3 linked regions of the Homo sapiens genome follow. The protein of the gene in region 3 interacts with the protein of the main gene of each other region in a pairwise test. Each region holds a gene or a part of one and is shown on either strand. Other genes may lie near its edges.

Region 1 (3,651 bases), on a different chromosome or scaffold from region 3:
AGCTTCATTTGCTTTTGACTCAAACTCTCTAAATTGGAGCTATTTCTCTAATGATGACAATGGTTAATTTCTGGGTACTTGCTAGATGCCAGGCCCTGTCTGAAGCACTTTGCACATATGATCACATTTAGTTTAATTAACTGGAGAAGAGAAACACCGCAGGAAGGTAGACCCTCTTGCAAAACCCAGGTGAAAGATAACAAGGATCTGAGCCAGGGCAGCGGCCATGGTGATGAGAGACAGATTAGCAGTAGGACTGAGAGGGCTTGGAGGCCAGCCAGATGTGGAACAAGGGAGAGGGAGGTGTGGAAGATGGTTGTGGTTTCTGGCCTAAGAAACTGGATAGATTCTATGCATTCAAATCAACCAATATTGGAGGCCCTTCAGAACGGGTTTCGGGGAAAGACAAGGGGCACTGGTTTAGGCAATGACTAACTGGAAGACTCCACACATCACCCAGAATACAAGCCTGCATCTGTGCTCTGACCTCACTCCCTCTCTGCATAATAAATCAGAGGGCTGGGCTGAGGTCCCTGAGGGCTGAAACAGGGCAAACAGGGACAGGGCTAGAAACATCAGACTATAGATAAAGAACAGATGGGAGATGCTCTTTCGGGGAATGAGCATGAACTTCTGCAGATTACTCCTCCCAAATGCCTGATGAGTGGGTGCTCCACTTCCCTACCCACATGAACATATCCACACACCACACGCAGAAACACATGAGTGCACACACACAAATACACTCGCACATGCATGCACACACACACATGAACACACAGCACAAACATGCACACACACACACGCACACACAGGCACACCTACATGCACACACATACACACACAAACACATATGCACACACACACCAGGATTAAAATACAGTCTGGCAACAGATGAGCCACAGAGCATCTCTACCTGGGCTTCTCTGGGAACTTTTGTGGGTAGAGGAACCCTACCTACTTCCGGCTATACCCACCTCTCAGATAACTGGATGGACAGCATCATCATAAGGCTGGGCCTTAGATGTCTCCAGTTTGTACTTATTTCCAAAGCAGCTACATTCTCATTTGAGCCTTAGAACAATCCTATGAGTTGGTGTTATCTCTAAATACGGAAACTGAGAGCCAAAGAGGTTCAATGACCAGAAGCGAAGTCTCCCGACCCTGTGGAAGGCAGCAGCCACTGCAGCAGGATGGAAGGGAATGAGTGAAGCGGATGAAGAGCAGGATCGCCCTGATAGAGGGCATCCCCATTTTTGTATCTCTCAAGTCCTTCCAAACATCACCCAGCTCAATCTCCCCTGCCCCCAGTTTCCTGTCTCAAAGCAGAGCTGGGCTGCATGAACCACGTCTCACCTAAGCCGGGGCCTGCAGAGGAGCCTGCGGCCCAATGGAGAGCAAATCTGAGCACCTAAGTGACAGAGAAGACAAAAAGGAGAGTAGATCTGTGTCCAATTCAAAGAGACAGAAGTGCAGCAACATCCTGTGCAGCCGGCTCCAAAAGGAGCTGCTGCAGCTTCCAGGAGGAAGTCAGTTGAGCCCAGAACCCCTCGTTTCCTGCCGTCTGCCCAGTGCTAATCTGAGCTCACGACAATCTCGGGCCACAGAGGTGGAAGAGACACTGACCTCCATCTGCCTCCGGTTTCTCAGCAGGCAGTCCCGCAGCACTGGCTCCCATTTCCTGAGCAGGGTGTCCCAAGAGTGGGCATCCCCTGAGCCGCTGCTCCCATCACCACCACAGCCAGCCAGTGAGGGATCCAGAGAACTGGAGGAGCCAGGGTCCATGTCTGGTAAAGAATGCATGTCACGCTCTGGCCTGGAGCTGTTCCTTGCGGCCTGGGCCAAGTCTGCAGAGACCCGTGTAGCCAAGAGACTGAAGGGCCGAGAGAGACATCGCGGGTCCTCGTGAGGCCCGTCCAAGCTGGCAGCTTTGGCTCCCATCTCCTGGGGGCTCTGGCAATGGGACTCAGCCTCTCTGGATGGTGGGCAGCCTTCTGCTTCTCCACGTTCCCCGGCAGAGCCAAGCGAGAGCCGAATAAAGCTAAAGCTTGAGGTAAAGGCACTGTGAGAGCCAGGAGGGGTTGGGGGGACCTCAGGGCCACAGCCAGGGCTGCAGCTGTTGCTACTCAACTCTGCTGATGGCAGAGAGCCTGCTGCCCGGACACGCCTTGCTCCATCGCTGCAGGCTGCCTCCCAGCTGGCGTCCAGGGTCTCAGAACTATCCATGGCTGCAAACTCTTGCTGCCACCCAGCACTCCCAGGGCCACACGGCCAGCTAAGCCTGTCAGGCAATCTGGTGCCACCTCTGAGCTGAATCCCAAAGTGCGCCGAGGTTCCTCTCACAGAGGTCACAGTAGGGGCTGCTGCACTCTTGGAAACAGGGCTCCGGACCAAGAGGCCTCTCGAGTCAAGGCCACACTGTCTGGCCCTGGACTCCGAGTGGTGGGACTCCTCGCCAGACACCCCTCCTGGGAACCGGAACAGTGTGCCCACTGCTGGGGAAAGGAACCCGATCCCAGGCCCTGTCGAGCTTCTCATGTAGCCCGGCCTCCGTGCCAGCCGCCGCCTCCGAAAGCACGCTGCAGGTGGTAAGCAATCCCGGCTGCCTGGGAAGAAAAGAAAAAACAGCACCATAAACATGCAGATCTTACTGGCCCAGCTGGAACTGCATCTGGAGAACATCCCTAGGTTTAAAGGTCATCTCTCAGTACACCTGTCAAAGATAGATGCTGGCTCAGTGGTCCCAGGGCCAATCCATTATGTAAATCCTGACAATCCTCAGGAAGTATTTGCCTGGAACATGTAGAAATCAACACAGCATCTCAGCTCCTCGGTTTAGCAGAGCAGCTGGCACTGCTGTACGCTATGCCAACAGGTCAGCATGAACACAACCTTGGCAGCTCCTGAACCCTCCAACATCTTGCCTGTTGGTCTTTTATGGCACCTCAGTACTCTCATCCTGGAGTGGGCCTGGAAAGCAAATGACGTGAAAGAGGAATGCCAGAGCATGCCTCTAAATGAGATCCAACTATTTACTCTAGCTATTCGTTGAACATGTGAATGTTCACTAGCGGAGCTATCCATGTCCCTGCAAGACTGATCTGTTGCTGCAGACCATGGATAGCTGGCTGTGCCGCAATGTATGGCCATCATCTCATCTCACTCAGTGGATGACAGGAGGCCTGCTTGATGTGTTCTCCAAACCAGCATTGCATTCCCTTCCCAGCTATGCTATAGGAATAGGAACAATAACAAATGCTGACTCCTCATTGACTGGTTCAAACCCTGATTGTACCACTTGCTGGTTGTGTGACCTTCCACAAGTTACTTAACCTCTCTGTGCCTCAGTTTCCCCATCAGTAAAGTGGTGATATTAACAGTAGCTCTCTCATAAGGTGGTTGTGAGCATTCAACTAAATGAGTTACTATTTGTAGACAGCTTAGAACAGTGCCTGGCACATATGATGATAAGAGTGATTAAAATGTTATTATTTTTAGATTGCATAGCACTTTGCTACTCATAATGTGTTTTAATTTACATTAATTTCATTCACTCCCGACCAAAACCATGTGAATCAATCCGACCCGAAACTATAGCTTTCCTTTTATATTAAAGGCAACTGAGATTCAGAGAACTTGACTTTCCAGAAC
Region 2 (3,651 bases), on a different chromosome or scaffold from region 3:
CTGCACACCAGTCTGTGCAACAGAGTGAGACCCTGTCTCAAACACACACACACACAACCTCAAGTAAAATGTGGAGAAATTACTTGTTGCCATTTCAAGATGAAAATGTGTTACACTTTATTCTTCTATTCCTTTTTGATAAAGGTAGTTCTGATCGGAAACAATAGAGACAAAATAAGCAATGCTTGATTGTACAGTTTTCTGGTAAAATTATCTCAACTTTCTCTTTCTTCTTTTTTTTAATTTTAAAGAAATGGAGTCTTGCCATGCTGCCCAAGATTGAATTGAAGTCTGAGGCTCAAGTAATCCTCTCACCTCAGCCTCAGTAGCTGGGACTACCGGCACAACTTCTCTGTTTTGGATAATAGCATCACCAAGCTCTACATCCTCCATGTTGAGCTTCTATTTACTATTAATTTTTTTCTTCAAAATTTCCTTCATGTCCACTTCTTTACAATAATTATACCAGCATTGGGATCCTTATAATTTCAGGCCTAGATTACTACACCATCTTTTCTACTTCTCTAATCCGTTTAATCTAAGACCAGCCTAATTCCTAGCTGTGTTTCATTTTGCCATAGTCAGAATCTAAAAAGGGATCCACAATCTAAAAAGCAGGGGAATTGTGTTATTCACAGGCCTCTTAAAATCTGATGAAACTATGGCATTTCCTCCCAGAAAAATGAACAACAGATGCACACAACAAATTTTCTAAGAATTTCTGACACTCCTTCCCCAACACTTTAGGTGTCTTCCATGGCTCCCCTTGCAAGTTTAAACTCCTAAGGGTCTGGCAGAACCCCCTGAGCATATTCAATTTCCTGTTATAAATTCTGTACTCTACTGGTTACCTCACTGTCAACCTTCAAAAACCTCATGTTCATTTTTGATTCCATGTCTTTGAGGTTATCCTGGATGCTAGAATACATTTCCTCTTCACTACTGCCTATTTAAATGAATTTCCCCAAAAGGTTTGCAAACTTAGTTGAACTCAAGCAGTACAGGTCAGAATGTAACCTCAGGACTTTGGAAGGCCCAAGTGAAAGGCTTGCCTGAGGCCAGGAGTTCAAGACCAGCCAGGCCAACATTTTGAAACTCTGTCCCTATTTTTTTTTTTTTTTTGGAGATGGAGTCTCGCTCTGTTGCCCCAGCTGGAGTACAGTGGCGTGATCTTGGCTCACTGCAACCTCCATCTCCCGGGTTCAAGTGATTCTCCTGTCTCAACCTCCCAAGTAGCTGGGATTACAGGCGCGCACTGCCATGCCCGGCTAATTTTTTGTATTTTCAGTAGAGACGGGATTTCACCATGTTGCCCAGGCTGGTCTCGAACTCCTGAGCTCAAGCAATACACCTGCCTCAGCCTCCCAAAGTGCTAGGATTACAGGCGTGGCTCACGCCCAGCAGGAAGCCTGTCTTAATTATCTCAACTCAACATCTTCCACACTGTTTAAAACATTCTTGAAAATCTGGAAATCTCTGAAATCCTTTCAGGCAGTCTTCGAGGTCAAAATTATTTTCATAAGAATTCAAAGACTTCGGCTGGGTGCGGTGGCTCACACCTATAATACCAGCACTTTGGGAAGCCTAAGCAGGCGGATCACTTGGGCTCAGGAGTTTGAGACCAGCCTGGGCCACATGGTGAAACCCTGTCTCTACAAAAAATTTGCCAGGCGTGGTGGCACATGCCTGTAGTCCCAACTACCTTGTGGGGCTGAGGGAGGAGAATAGCTCGAGACCAGGAGGTCGAGTCTGCAGTAAGCTGTAATCACACCACTGCACTCCAGCCTGGGTGACAAAGCGAGATCCTATGTCCTGCCCCCAAAAAAAGTTTTTTTTAAAAAAAAGGAATAATAAGCCAGGCGCAGTGACTCACACCTGTAATCCCATCACTTTGGGAGGCCAAGGCAGGAGGATTACTTGAGCCCAAAAGTTCAAGACCAGCCGAGGCAACATAGTGAGTGAGACCATGCCTCTTTTTTAAAATAAATAAACATTTTTTTTTAAAATAAGAAACTAGCATTTGTTCACTTTGGGTGTAGTATCAAAGGACAGGTTAATACATCTTTAAAAAGAAGAACTTTTAGGCCGGGCGCCGTGGCTCATGCCTGTAATCCCAGCACTTTGGGAGGCTGAGGCAGGCGGATCACCTGAGGTCAGGAGTTCGAGACCAGCCTGACCAACATGGAGAAACCCTGTCTCTACTAAAAATACAAAATTAGCGGGCCATGGTGGTGCATGTCTGTAATCCCAGCTACTTGGGAGGCTGAGAGAATTGCTTGAACCTGGGAGGCAGAGGTTGCGGTGAGCCAACATTGTGCCATTGCACTCCAGCCTGGGCAACAAGAGTGAAACTACGTCTCATTTTTAAAATCCTAGCTTTTTCTGAGACAGAGTCTCTGTTGCTTAGGCTGGAGTGCAGTGGTGCAATCTTGGCTCACTGCAACGTCCACCTGCCAGGTTCAAGTGATTCTCCTGCCTCAGCCTCCCAAGTAGCTGAAACTACGACGTGTGCCATCACACCCGGCTAATTTTTGTATTTTGTTATTTTTTAGTAGAGACAGGGTTTTACCATGTTGGCCAGGCTGGTCTCAAACTCCTGACCTCAGGTGATCCGCCCGCCTCAGCCTCCCAAAGTGCTGGGATTACAGGCGTGAGCCACCACGCCCGGCTGCATTTTTTCTTCATTCAGGAAAAAACACATTCGTTTTTAAGGTTTCAATTTTTTAAAGATATTTCCTCATATTTGCATAAATCTGACTTTTTAAAATCGTATTTAGGCTGGCCACAGTGACTCACGCCTATAATCCCAGCTCTTTGTAATCAACGAGAAATATAGGACTGGGGCTACTCTCTGGGAGTCCGAGGTGAGCGGATCACTTGAGGCCAGGGGTTTGAGACCAGCCTGGCCAACGTGGCAAAACCCCGTCTCTACTAAAAATGCAAAAATTATCCGGGCATGGTGGCACATGCCTGTAATCCCAGCTACTGGGGAGGCTGAGGCAAGAGAATCACTTGAACCCAGGAGGCGGAGGTTGCAGTGAGCCAAGATCGTGCCACTGCACTCTAGCCTAGGTGACAGAGTGAGACTCAGGTCTCAAAACAGAAACAGACATAGAAAAAATCTTTGCTGAATCGAACATGTGACTAATTGCATAAGACATTTAAAACACAAGATGTATGAGAAATAAAAAATAACAAGGTCACAAACCTAATGGCTGAGGAAGCCTATGATACAAATCAAGAATTTGAAAATGGAAAACAAAAAGATGATAATGAATGTGATTTATACACTCTGCAACATGGAAAATCTAAGTGGATAATCCTGGAATCAACGAGAAATATAGGACTGGGGCTCATGGAAAGCATCTGGCCTAGAAAGAGATCTGGAAATGAATAAATTGAGATTTGGGGACATATACTAATTTGTACCAAAGTAACATAACAAAGCCTAATCGCCAAAAATATATAAAATAAAAGGAGACATGTAATACCTGGTTAAATGTTTCTTACCTACTATTTTCCACAGCCTTCATAGCATATTCAACTTGAAAAACTCTTCCGTCAGGAGAGAATGTAGAGGCTGACAGGTCATACTTAAGGAGAAAAGGGCAACAGTAAGCTTGTATCTTTGGCAGTAATGACCATACAGTT
Region 3 (3,651 bases):
AATTATGAATCCCATTTTATAGCTTCATAGTGATGGTAAGAGGACAAAATTGGCTTTAAGAGAAAATTCAGCTATCTAAAACCTAACCATGCAAGGATACCCCATCTCCAAAAACCCTGGAAGCTTTTCTTTCTTCCAACAGTCAACTAGCATTTTATGGGGCAGGGCAGAAGGATAAATAATGTCAGTCATATCAAAGTACAGCCTCGAATGATCACCCTAATCTTTCTGAAGTATCAAAATGTGAAACTTACTGTCAAATTTTTCCACCCAGGGTCATTATTTAAACGATCAGCTATGTAATAGCGAAGGCATTTAGCAAGATTGTCCATGAATTCAGTTCCCTAAAATGATAGAAAGAAATAAATTAACCTATCATTTAAGAGTTAGCAATAGCTAGCAAAGTATGAGACTACTTACTGGTGTAATACAGTTGCTGTCAAATCTTTCTTTTATTTCTTCTGGAGGAAGAAAGCCACCTAGAGAAAAGAGGCAACGTTTTGTTCTCCCCATAAAAAGTGAGATAAATTACTCAACATTAAGCCAGAACAACAAAAACAAAAAGTTCCACTACAAAAGAAAGTGAAGTCTCGTCATCCGAGGAAAAATGTTCCCTCACTGGGAAGAAAATAAGATTCCATCTCTCAAATTTAAATTATTATTATTATTATTATTTGAGACAGAGTCTCATTCTGTCACCCAGGCTGGAGTGCAGTGGTGCAATCTCGGCTCACTGCAACCTCCGCCTTCCGGGGTTCAAGCGATTCTCCTGTCTCAGCCTCCTGAGAAGCTGGGATTACAGGCGCCTGCCACCACGCCTGGCTAATTTTTGTATTTTTAGTAGAGACGCAGTTTCATTGTGTTGGCCAGGCTGGTCTTGAACTCCTGACCTCCAGTCATCTGCCGTCCTCGGCCTCCCAAAATGCTGGGATTACAGGGGTGAGCCATCGTGCTCAGCCTTTTAAATTATGTTTTAATAAGACTGTAAAACAATATATGGTACACAAAAGATATTATATTGTTACATAAAAATTATGAAGTTCTTCACTCTGTAAGAGAATACACACACACACACACACACACACACACACACACACACACACCAGTTAGAGGCCATATTTTTTGATAACAGTTCCTAAAATAAAGGTGCCTAAGAAAAATGAAATTTAAAATGCCGAGTTCATCACAGCTTTACAGGATAAGAAATACAATTATCAGGTAGAGGAATATAAAAATCCTATTTTTTCCTCTCTATCACTATTAGCTGCTTCTCAAGAAACAAGTATATTTCATCACATCTTCAAAAAAAAGACATTCTTAAAATCAGAAACATTGTTATAAATACAAACAGGTTTTAGAGTCTTAATTACAAGTTGCAGCTAAAGGAACTATATACTTGTACACTTCCAGCAAAATTCAAGTAATATAAAATTTATTGTAATTGCAGGCCTGAGCTGGCTATACTATGGCATCCTTTTTCAACTGCAGAGTGCAATTATCCGGAGCCAAGACACTGTGGCTTTTCTGGTCTATTATACCCCCTTAAGTAGCAGAACACCAAACAAACCTGCTACAACCATACCCTACCTCACACACAGGTGTGGTAGGAGAGAACCAGTCCCAACTGGCATCAACACTCCCTGATCTTCCTTTTCTCTGAGGCTTAGTCAGTTCCTACCCATGTAGCCACCAGGAATTTTAAGGCTTTGGGGAACTGCAAAAATGAAGACATCCCACCCTAACCCCTCCAAACTTGAAGGAACCATAAGTACTGTGCCTGCTCCATCAACCTATATTGAAAGTATGCAAATGACTTGGCAACAGCCTGTAAATGTGGATCGAATCACCTCCGGCTTCCTCAGATAGACCTCTGAGTTTCAAAAAGCAAGCAAACCAAAGCTGATTTGAGGAAAATGTTTACAGCACTATAGCTTTCTGACAGCCGCCACAGAGAAAAGTAGTAAAAAATACTTACTATATTTCTATTCTACAGAGACATAAAAGTTTGTTAAAGAGCTGCACTGGCCCTGAGAGGAGTTGACAATCTGCAATCTCCACCAGAATTCCCTATTCCCAAGGCTCCCTCTTACTGGAGAGTTTGAAAATAAACAAGCCTATTAAGCCTATTGGTAGATTTCATGAACTACTTTTCCTCAACAGTGAACACTGGATATTCTGGGATCCTTATTAAATTAAAAGCTTGCCTCTTTGTAAGAAAAAGTTGCCACCACCCCCTCATTCTGCATACATCTTATGAAAAAATCCAACTTCAAGATGCATATTCTTTACCTTTTGCCAATATTTCTTCCCTGACTCGCTGCTTCTCGACTGCTGCTTCCATTCCTTCTTTTGATGCCCTGAACCTCCTTGAACGCTGCTGGTTCATTTTAGCACGTGGTGCCTGAAAATGTATTTCATATTCCATAACACTCATCAAAATATTCACAAATAAATCTGTACCTTATTTTGAATCAGTTGTTCTTATAAAAGCAGTACACTAAAATGGAAGAAAGGTAAGTAATGTGTCTAATAATCCTTTCATGACAGATACCAGATGCTGAGAACTTAAATTTGGACCGAGAACCCAAAAGCTGAGCTCAATCAGGTGAATGAGTGCCACGTCAAATGGACAAACATCCTATGAAGCCCTAGCACTTATACTTCAAGCCCTCCCAGTCTAACACCAGTTCCCCTCGGTTAGGGTGCTTGATTCAGGGCACCCAAGAAAGAAAGCTCACTTTACTCAAAAGACCCAGCCAACATCTGATGAGCAGTTACTACTGAACTAAGATCAGGAAGACATTCTCTATGTCCACACCTAAAAGGAAGAATGGTGTCCAAATGGGATCCACAATGTCTCATAAAAGCAACAGAAAACTATTTCTTTATGTGAAGAATCTCGGTGCACTTCTATTTCCCACAATAAGGTTTATAATTTTTCTGTCTTTTCAATAAGGCATAGCAGTTAGAAAGAAATAATGCCTTAACCAGAAGTACTTTTAAATCACTCTAACCAAATGCAATTTCAGTGGAAAAGCCCAAATAAAGTGAACTAGATTGTAAGATTTTCGAAGTTACTGAACTGAGTTTTGGGGTGGGAAGAAACTGTGAAATATCCTGTTTACATCTAAATGTAAGTTATTTAATATTCTCTTTAAACAATTCCCTTTTCTGTAGAATGAGACCATCTAATGAAGCCCTCTCAAGTACAAAGTTCTGTATCTACATTTATATATAAACAAAAAAATGTGTGTATAAACATGTACACACACATGCATATAAATGTGTACATATTTTATACTTGATGTAGCAGAAAGAACACACTGGAGTAAAGCTAAAGATTTCTTCAAAAAAAATTAGCTGAATATAAACTGAAATGTGCTCTAAACAAGACATATTCCTTTTCTTTTTACTCTTTACTCCATTCTAACTGCAACTTAGCAAGTTATCAGGTAGCTAAGGTTTTTCACTGAGTAAGACGAATCTCACAGAAAAGTTAATCTTCTTGGATTCAAAGTTCTCTGAATTTCCAAAATCATCCCATTAGCCGCTAGGATGCACTAAAATTAAAAGAATCTACTTGCAGATAGCTAAATAAATTTAGAGTTATATCTTACCTTACCCCCCTAATAGAGTTTGCTGGTCATTTAT

What was found.
Region 1: the proteins of XRN2 (region 3) and DISC1 interact in binary tests that used the Homo sapiens proteins (3 or more experiments, as listed by UniProt).
Region 2: the proteins of XRN2 (region 3) and PSMA3 interact in a two-hybrid assay, tested with the Homo sapiens proteins (one large-scale study listed by BioGRID and IntAct).

Annotation. Positions count from the first base shown.
Region 1 is NC_000001.11:231,692,781-231,696,431, reverse strand, and holds part of DISC1 (disrupted in schizophrenia 1 protein), read right to left. Parts: intron 2,607-3,651; coding exon 1,627-2,606; intron 1-1,626. UniProt on the Homo sapiens protein: Involved in the regulation of multiple aspects of embryonic and adult neurogenesis. Required for neural progenitor proliferation in the ventrical/subventrical zone during embryonic brain development and in the adult dentate gyrus of the hippocampus.
Region 2 is NC_000014.9:58,247,692-58,251,342, reverse strand, and holds part of PSMA3 (proteasome subunit alpha type-3), read right to left. Parts: intron 3,594-3,651; coding exon 3,511-3,593; intron 1-3,510. UniProt on the Homo sapiens protein: Component of the 20S core proteasome complex involved in the proteolytic degradation of most intracellular proteins. This complex plays numerous essential roles within the cell by associating with different regulatory particles.
Region 3 is NC_000020.11:21,327,309-21,330,959, reverse strand, and holds part of XRN2 (5'-3' exoribonuclease 2), read right to left. Parts: intron 2,402-3,651; coding exon 2,290-2,401; intron 480-2,289; coding exon 421-479; intron 345-420; coding exon 255-344; intron 1-254. UniProt on the Homo sapiens protein: Possesses 5'->3' exoribonuclease activity. May promote the termination of transcription by RNA polymerase II.